Linked DNA regions of Homo sapiens: region 2 is reported to be linked to region 1. Evidence: microRNA targets listed by miRTarBase, many of them from high-throughput screens and not tested one by one. Region 1 holds a microRNA gene; the other region holds the end of a gene's coding sequence.

Region 1 (4,152 bases):
CCTCCCCATTTCCCATTAATGTTAACTCTATATTTTCAAACAGTTTGTAGAACTGATTTTACCTATGTTCAATGACAAAGACACTCCCTTAGAAGTATTGAGCTTTTCCTGAGACCTTAACGGAAGACATGATCCTGGATGGTGTCATGTTAGGCATCACAGACCCTCAACAAAAGACAGATTTGGGGGTGTTGCTTTGTTGGAGAGTGTGTTTTGTTTTGTTTTCTGAAAGATGGCCTTTGGAATACTTCCTCAAGTCCTTTCCTGGTAATTATGTGATTCACAGAATCTCTAATTTGAACAGTTATTAAAGAATATCTTCATTTGTTTGTGCTGCTGTAGCAAAATACCATACACTGTGTACTTTATAAAGAACAGAAATTTATTTTCTTACCATTCAAAAGGCAGGGAAGTCCAAGATCAAGGTGCAGGCATGTTCGGTTGTTGGATGAGGGCTGCCTCCTCTGTAGGGGAGGAAGGCTGTGTCCTCTCATGGCAGAGACCTGAAAGCCCTTTTCAGAAGGGCCTTATCCATTTATGGTGAAGGAGCCTCATGACCTAATCACCTTCCAGGGGCCCTGTCTTTCAATGCTGTCACTGTGGTGATTTGGTTTTAACATGAATTTTGGAGGATCTGACATTCAAACCATAGCAAAGAACCTACACTCACGTAATTATAGCACTCTGCATTTCAAATGTGTAAATTTCTATAAATGTTTCTAACAGTCACTTTACAAACAAAATATGTAAAACAGAGAAAAAAGAAAGGGGCAAAACTGAGCCTCATTAAAAGTTATGGTTATAACTCTCTTTTCGTGGGGATATTAATTTTAGTAGAATGAGTTAAATAAAAGTTTAAGTCAAAAAGAGAGGCAACAGCTGCCTCCAGTCAAAGTGTCTGGTTTCTAAATGATGTTTTAAATTTCCAGCTTAGCATGTATTCTTAATTTTTATATCATTTTTAATATGTTAATGGCTACTGTTTTTAGGTTGTTTTCTTAACAGTTCTGCAACTACCTTTAAGATGTTTTTTGAAGTCTAGGTGGCAATATTTTGTCTTCAGTTAATATAATTGCAATATTACGTTAGAAACTAGCACAAAATTATATTCCTGAATAATCTCTAAATTGCTAACTTTTCAGGGATTTATATTTTCTGAAAATTAACATTCTTGAGAATTTCATTAATGTCCCAGGCAAATCACATAAATGGACCAAACACATGAGACAGAAAAATTAAAGTTGAAATGAGGTCTATAAGAGATTCTCAAATATTTGAAATACCTCAAGTCAAAAGATATGAGTATATAAAAACTTCATGTAATATAATTTGATTAATTTTCCAGTAGTTTATGGAGTATGATTTTGGACTATACCACACTGTAAGCCTTAGGTTTTGTAATAACCTGAACTCTTGATATTTAAGAAGATAAATTTCATGTTTGTTGATGAGGAAGCACACACCACTAGAATGAACGCTTATTGGAAAAGCATTGTAACACTGAGAAAACACTAGCAATGAATGATTTTTCTTCATAGAGAAAGGAAGCAGCAAAACAGTCCATAATGAGAGCTCAGCCAAGGGAAACAAAAATCATTGAAATTTCTTAATAGATTCTTTAATACTGATTATTAGATAGAAGCATGTTTTACACTGTGGGAATCCATAAGATTTCAAAGAAAAAGATGCTGTTTTACTTTAAAATGTTGACCTTGAAAGGCTGTAGCTTTTTAAACTCTACTTTTGTTCACTTTCTTTCTCTTTCATTTTGTTCTTGGTTGTCTGCAAGAAACTTGGAGGAGAACCTAGCACATCAAAGGATTTAGTATACAAAAGGGTAGCTTGTAAGTCAGTTAAGAAACAAAGCATTTTCTATTAAATGCTTCTAGGATAACTCACTATTTGAGAGAAAATTTTCAAGTTAGGTAAGTATGCAAATTCAGCTGCGTTATGAACTTGATTGTGAAAAAGCCATGTTAGTCATCTAGAAAACAAATACGTAAATAGAAGATTGCAAAATGGCAGAGAAGTTTATAAGCATAAAATTAATTTTTAAAAATTCTAAGGGGAGTATCAGTAGATAATACTTCACATGACACAAAACTTTGGCATATCTAACACCATCATAAAAAAGATGCAAATGAGAAGCTGGAAAAATTACTTGCAACACGTATTCCAGTCAAACAACAACAAAAGAAGATGAGCATACTGAGATAAAAGTGGAAAAAAATACAGACAGACAACTCATAAAATGAAAAAAATACAAACATTTAATGTGAGTTTAACTAAAATGTACTGGTTTTGATGTTGAATAAACTGGGAAAATTAATAAGATAATATTGATGATTAGTGTCACTGATTATATTAGACCATTCTTGCATTGCTATAAAGGAATACCTGTGATTGCATAATTTATAAAACAAAGAGGTTTAATTGGCTCATGATTCTTCAGGCTTTATAGGACCCATGGTTCTGGCATCTGCTCGGCTTCTGGGGAGTCCTCAGGAGCTTACAATCATGGTGAAAGGTGAAGAAGGAACAGTCTTTGTCACGTGACCAGAGCCAGAACAAAAGAGAGAGAGTTGGGGGTAAGGTGCCATACACTCAGAAGAAGAGCTCACTCATCACCAAGAGGATGGCCCAAGCTATTCATGAGGGATCTGCCTCCGTGATCCAAATACCTCCCAAATCTCCTGTTGAAGTGTAATCCCCACCTCCAGCATTGGGGATTACATTTCAACATGAGATTTGGATGAGGACAAATATCCGGACTCCATCAGTGGTCAAGAACTTTTTATTTCTGGAGAGCTATGTTAAAATATATGTTAAAAGTCCATCCTCTTTAGTTCTGTAATTCCTAATATAGGAATGCATCCTAATAAAATATCTCAGATGTATATATATATATATATGTGAATGACAATGTTCAGCAGAGTTCTTTTTTAGGGTACAAAGACTATCCCTTTAACAGTTTTTACATAACTAAAATGTTTCCACTAAAAATCACAATAAAAATCGTCAGTGTTCTTTTCACATTTCAGGCAATCCTGCTGGTTTTCATATTATTTTTAAAACTTTATAAGGAGAATGGTGAAAATAGTTCATATATAACTTAGATGCTTGTTCTTTCTATATTGTCAGCTGCTTTTCACAAATGATTAGCCTCAGCTCTGGACAGATTTCAGCTTACATCAATATGATGTAAGTGATACTATGTTTTCTCTATAGCTGTGGTGATTTGCAATATTATTTTTGCCTCCTATTTGTCATGTAGTACCTGCTGGGCTGCCTCAACAGATAGTATTTGTACAATGGCATTTTTGTGTGGAATGAGTCCATCTTCTGCATACATCCACATGTTATGAATATACTAAAATGATCACAGGTCATACATAAAAATCTTGTCATTTAAAAAAAATCTTACAAATATTAAATTTAGAGGAATGTCTTAGATTTTGCTTCAGTCTATATGGATATACTTCATTCATTCAGCAAGTAATTTGCTGAGCACTTACTATGTATGATGTTTTCATGGCTCTGGGGATATAGTAGATGATCAAGTAGCTTAAAAGTATCCATGCTAGTGGTGGATATAGGTAGTAAATAGGAAACAAATATAAAAATAATTATGGATTGGGATATATGCTATGAAGTAAACAAAGGCAGACTATCTTGCTAGGATGGAGGTTTTGTCTTTGGACAGAGCTTTTAGGCCTCCTTAAGTAGATGACTGAGCTATAAAGCATAAGACTGAGCCTGCCTCATTAATAGGCAGGAGAGAGTGTCCCAGGGTGGAGAGAGAACAAGGTAAAGGTGCCCAGGTGGGGATTTGAGGGTTGGAGCTAAGGGAGCCCATATTGCTGAATAAGAGTGAGCTGTGGAAAGAAGGCATGAGTTAGCTATAGAACCCTTGCTTCTTATTCTTACTCTTGGGTATTAACAGTCATCTTCCTCTTGAAAGCTGAGAATAGCAGTTTAGGCAGATTGTGAGTTTGGCTTTGGTTCTTTATGGAAAGATACCTTGGAGTCCCATGGCCACTAGATGAAGGGATGTCAAGCATTGTAACTAGCCAACTGCATCCCTACCATGGATAGTTTCCAACATTCTGTTGCTCTTAGAAAGTCCTGAGACATCATCCTTTCCTTCAGGTG
Region 2 (4,000 bases), not on the chromosome of region 1:
CCAAAAGACAGAAAACCTCACAAATGTATAAAGTCTCCTCTAACACAAGAAATGGTCTAAAGTCCTCCATGTGCTTATTACATGTTACTTTTCTTAACCCTTTAAGAATGCAGAAAATGGGTATTTTCATTTTTATATGGATACATTAAACATGGAGAATTATATTTTTACATTCTATATATGTGCAAGCATAGATAAAACTCAGTCATAGGCTAACATAAAATAAATACTTGGTTAATATTGGAAAGGAATATATAACTTGTTGGTGTAGCTAGAGAACACAGCATTAAACCAAAGGTTGCTGTCAATCTATTAGCAGAAATAGATATGAGTGGAAATGAACTAGATATGAATTAAAAACTCCTGAAAATAAAAGAAACATTTTTTTTATAATTTTTTCTTCCTTAAGCAACACTACATCATTCAAGTCAAAGTATATATCTGACTCTTAAAATCTGTTAAAATTAGAAAATATTTAATATTATGAGGACCTAAGGATACAACAAGTTTTTTAAAGCTGTAGAACCCATCTAGAATTGCTAACTTTTTCCTCTGGCTGTTACCAGAGAAGGCAGCCACGTCTGTCTCTTTGACCAGCACACCTCATTCAATAAAAAGTCAGGACTTTTTATCATGGGCACAACACGATGTCATGTGTTTTCATGACATCCACCAAAAAATATTATTACTGGTAAAAACTGAACACTATTTAAAGCATCCACTGTCAATGCCCTTCTCAAGGATCTGCTCAGAGAAGGAAAGATGACTAACCTTAGAAGTGTACCAACAAGTGTTCATCACACTGAATGTGGTTTTAAAAATATATGCGACACCACCCAGAAGGACAGAAAGCATACAGAAAGCAAAGCGTAAGCCAATGAAGCGCATTCAGCCAGCTGAGGGGTGAGGCACGTCCTCTCTGGCACTGGCTTCCTCAAGTCTTCACCTGTGTACCGAAAGCAAGCCTAGTTTCAACTGGAAATGTCATAAGGTCTACCTGTATGTGACTTGCAGAGTAACATAAACATACTGCATTTAGCAAAGACAAACCAATGCAAACTGGAAAGAGGTTTTAAACCAATAACAACCTGAAATGTAAGGGTCTTGGATGCCTCAACACAGGTTTAATGCAGACAGACATAAAAAAATGTCCCTCTTACCTCCTCTCCATTTCAAGGTTACAGGACACAGTAATACTGAATCAGGACACAGGCACATGTTATATAAATCTTATTTAATATGTAGTACCACCTACATCCTGCTTTCATACTTTCAACATAATTTAACACATTCAAGGAGACTATGCAAATCAATTCAAAATATCTATCTATACCAATGGTTTTCAAACTTTTTTTTTTTTTTTTTTTGAGACGAAGTCTTGCTCTGTTGCCAGGCTGGAGTGCAGTGGTGCAATCTCGGCTCACTGCAACCTCTGCCTCCCGGGTTCAAGTGATTCTCCTGCCTTAGCCTCCCAAGGAGCTGGGACTACAGGCATGCACCACCACGCCCAGATAATTTTTGTATTTTTAGTAAAGAAGGGATTTCACCATGTTGGCCAGGACAGTCTCCATCTCTTGACCTCGTGATCCGCCCGCCTTGGCCTTCCGAAGTGCTGGGATTACAAGCGTGAGCCACCACACCCGGCCCAAACTGTTTTTTTTGTTTGTTTCTTTTGAGATGGAGTCTCGCTCTGTCGCCCTGGCTGGAGTGCAGTGACGTGATCTCAGCTCACTGCAACCTCCATCTCCTGGGTTCAAGCAATTCTCCTACCTCAGCCTCCTGAGTAGCTGAGATTACAGGTGCCCTCCACCATGCCCAGCTAATTTTTGCATTTTTAGTAGAGATGGTGTTTCACCACGTTGGCCAGGCTGGTCTTGAACTCCTGACCTCAGGTGATCTGCCCACTTCAGCCTCCCAAAGTGCTGGGATTACAGGCATGAGCCACCGCGCCCGACCAAACTGTTTTTAAATGATAACTGCCCCCTTTAAAATACTTAAGCCTTATGCAGAAATCTTATGTGGCATATAAAGAGACAAGGCAGAGATGCTGTGGTTGAAAGTAACCTCTTGACCCACCTGGACATCCAATGAGCATAGTTTGAAAACCACTGAAATAAGGTATGCTATCCATAATAATGTATGCTATCCATGCCTCCTAGCAATTAAATTTGTAACAACAATTTCAAGTTTAAGTAAGACAAATTAAACACTGAATGGAATGTTGAAATCTGAGGAAAGCTAGCATTCAAATGAGCAGTTAAATTCATTAAACAGTTTGCTTTAAAAAATATTCATTAAGTTAAAATGACAATGTAAGGTTTGCATATAATCATACTATTTATTGAAGTAGAAAGAAACTGAAAAGTGTTTACTTCAAAACTTCAGTCTAGTAAACTGAAATTATGAATCATAAAATGCTGCTTCTTACTTTTGCTTCCTAAATCATAATCTACCCCAACTACATTGAAATTTTCATGAAAAATAAACATATCAATAATGGGATTTACAGAAACCAATTTCTTTACAAAGTCTTGACCAACTGTTTACCTGACTATCCCAGTAAGGAGAATTTTCCTTCAAAGATATTTTTAGGAAAAACTTTTGTTTCTTTGTTTGCTTTTCTTTTTAAAATGGGGAAAACTGTAAAACATAAAAGAAATGCAATATATAGTAGAAATTGCTTATTCCAACTTCTAACTGCTCATATCAAACTTCTCTTTAGAAAAATGGAAAATGTATCCAGTACAATTCAATCGACATACAATTTATTTTTTTAGTAACAGATTTTTCAAATTGAGCTCTTAAAAAGTACAGTTAACTACAAAAGATTAAATAGATACTTATAAAATATATTTACCCTGAAATGCTTAAGAATAAAAGTGTTGATGCCCATGTCAATAGTACATTATACATTACACACATTATTTAAATGTCATTTTCTTTCCAATAACGTAGATAAAACCACAATATTTATTGCTTATATCAAGTGCAGGTTAAAATCCAGATAGCCTCCAAAAACAAATCCTGTGATAAAGGATATCTCAATGTTGGTCAGGTGAAATACTGTGTTTGACATGTATGAATACAGTTGCAAAATTTACCAGTTTTTAACAAACATGAATGTCTTTATTTTAGACAGCCATTTACAGTTTGGGGTTCAGAGGAACCTGCAGTCAAGAGTCCTGAGATGTTGGGCTTGTGACTGTAAATATCACTTATCTGGTTGATGTCTATTCTACTGCACCGTTTTTGGGATATGAGGCGTTTGCTGCAGACAAACCCCTATGATTAATGTAGCACTGTCAGTTACTAGTGCAGAAGCTTGCTGGGCAAAATTAATTGTTTATAGGGCATTTTGCTGAAAAAACAGTGTCCAGCCAACAAAAGCGCCAACCAAAATGACTGACATAAACCCCATCTTAGTGAGAATAGGTTGCCAATATAACCACCTTTTTCTTTTTCGTTCATTCTCATTTAGCCTCTGTTTCATCTGCTGCACCTTCTGAGCTGTGGTGGCCTTTCTGTCCTCTCGAATACGTTTCCGTAGAGCACTATGAGGAAATAAAAACAAGTGAAAGGAAGTGCACACAGAGCAGGACTTGAGTACTCTAACACAGAGGACCTAGGCGCAAATAAAACCATCCACATAGTTTTCACCCTATTTGAACACTGGAATAATGAGGGGAAAAGCCTCAATATTCTTTTGAGACAGCGTCTTGCTCTGTCACCCAGCCTGGAGTGCAGTGGTACAATCTTGGTTCACTGCAACCTCTGCCTCCCACGCTCAAGTGATTCTCGTGCCTCAGCCTCCCAAGTAACTGAGACTGCAGGCGTGCACCACTATGCCCAGCTAATTTTTTGTATTTTTAGTAGAGACAGGGTTTTGCCATGTTGGCCAGGCTGGTCTTGAACTCCTGACCTCAAGCAATTCACCCGCCTTGGCCTCCCAAAGTCCTGAGATTACAGGTGTGAGCCACGGCGCCCGGCCAAGAAAAGCCTC

The links. Region 1 holds the annotated microRNA hsa-miR-1267 (CCUGUUGAAGUGUAAUCCCCA, at 2,693-2,713, shown strand). A microRNA usually pairs through its seed, bases 2 to 8, with sites in the 3' UTR of a target mRNA and lowers its output. Matches are read on the target gene's strand: a 7mer-m8 pairs with bases 2 to 8, a 7mer-A1 pairs with bases 2 to 7 and ends in A, and an 8mer does both.
Region 2: miRTarBase lists PTPN2 as a target of hsa-miR-1267. Seed matches in the 3' UTR shown: 7mer-A1 at 1,383-1,389.

The regions. Positions count from the first base shown.
Region 1 is chr13:107,529,778-107,533,929 of GRCh38, reverse strand. It overlaps MIR1267 (microRNA 1267), which reads left to right and starts at 2,682; the gene lies at 2,682-2,759. The region is part of intron 1 of NALF1 (NALCN channel auxiliary factor 1); the gene reads left to right. It overlaps LOC112268110 (a long non-coding RNA gene), which reads left to right. Exons shown (of 3, transcript XR_002957493.2): 1 at 1-4,152.
Region 2 is chr18:12,790,935-12,794,934 of GRCh38, forward strand. It overlaps PTPN2 (protein tyrosine phosphatase non-receptor type 2), which reads right to left. Exons shown (of 9, transcript NM_002828.4): 9 at 1,218-3,551. The coding sequence ends at 3,344. Among named protein-coding and RNA genes, the nearest start is that of LINC01882, 44 kb to the left of the region's middle.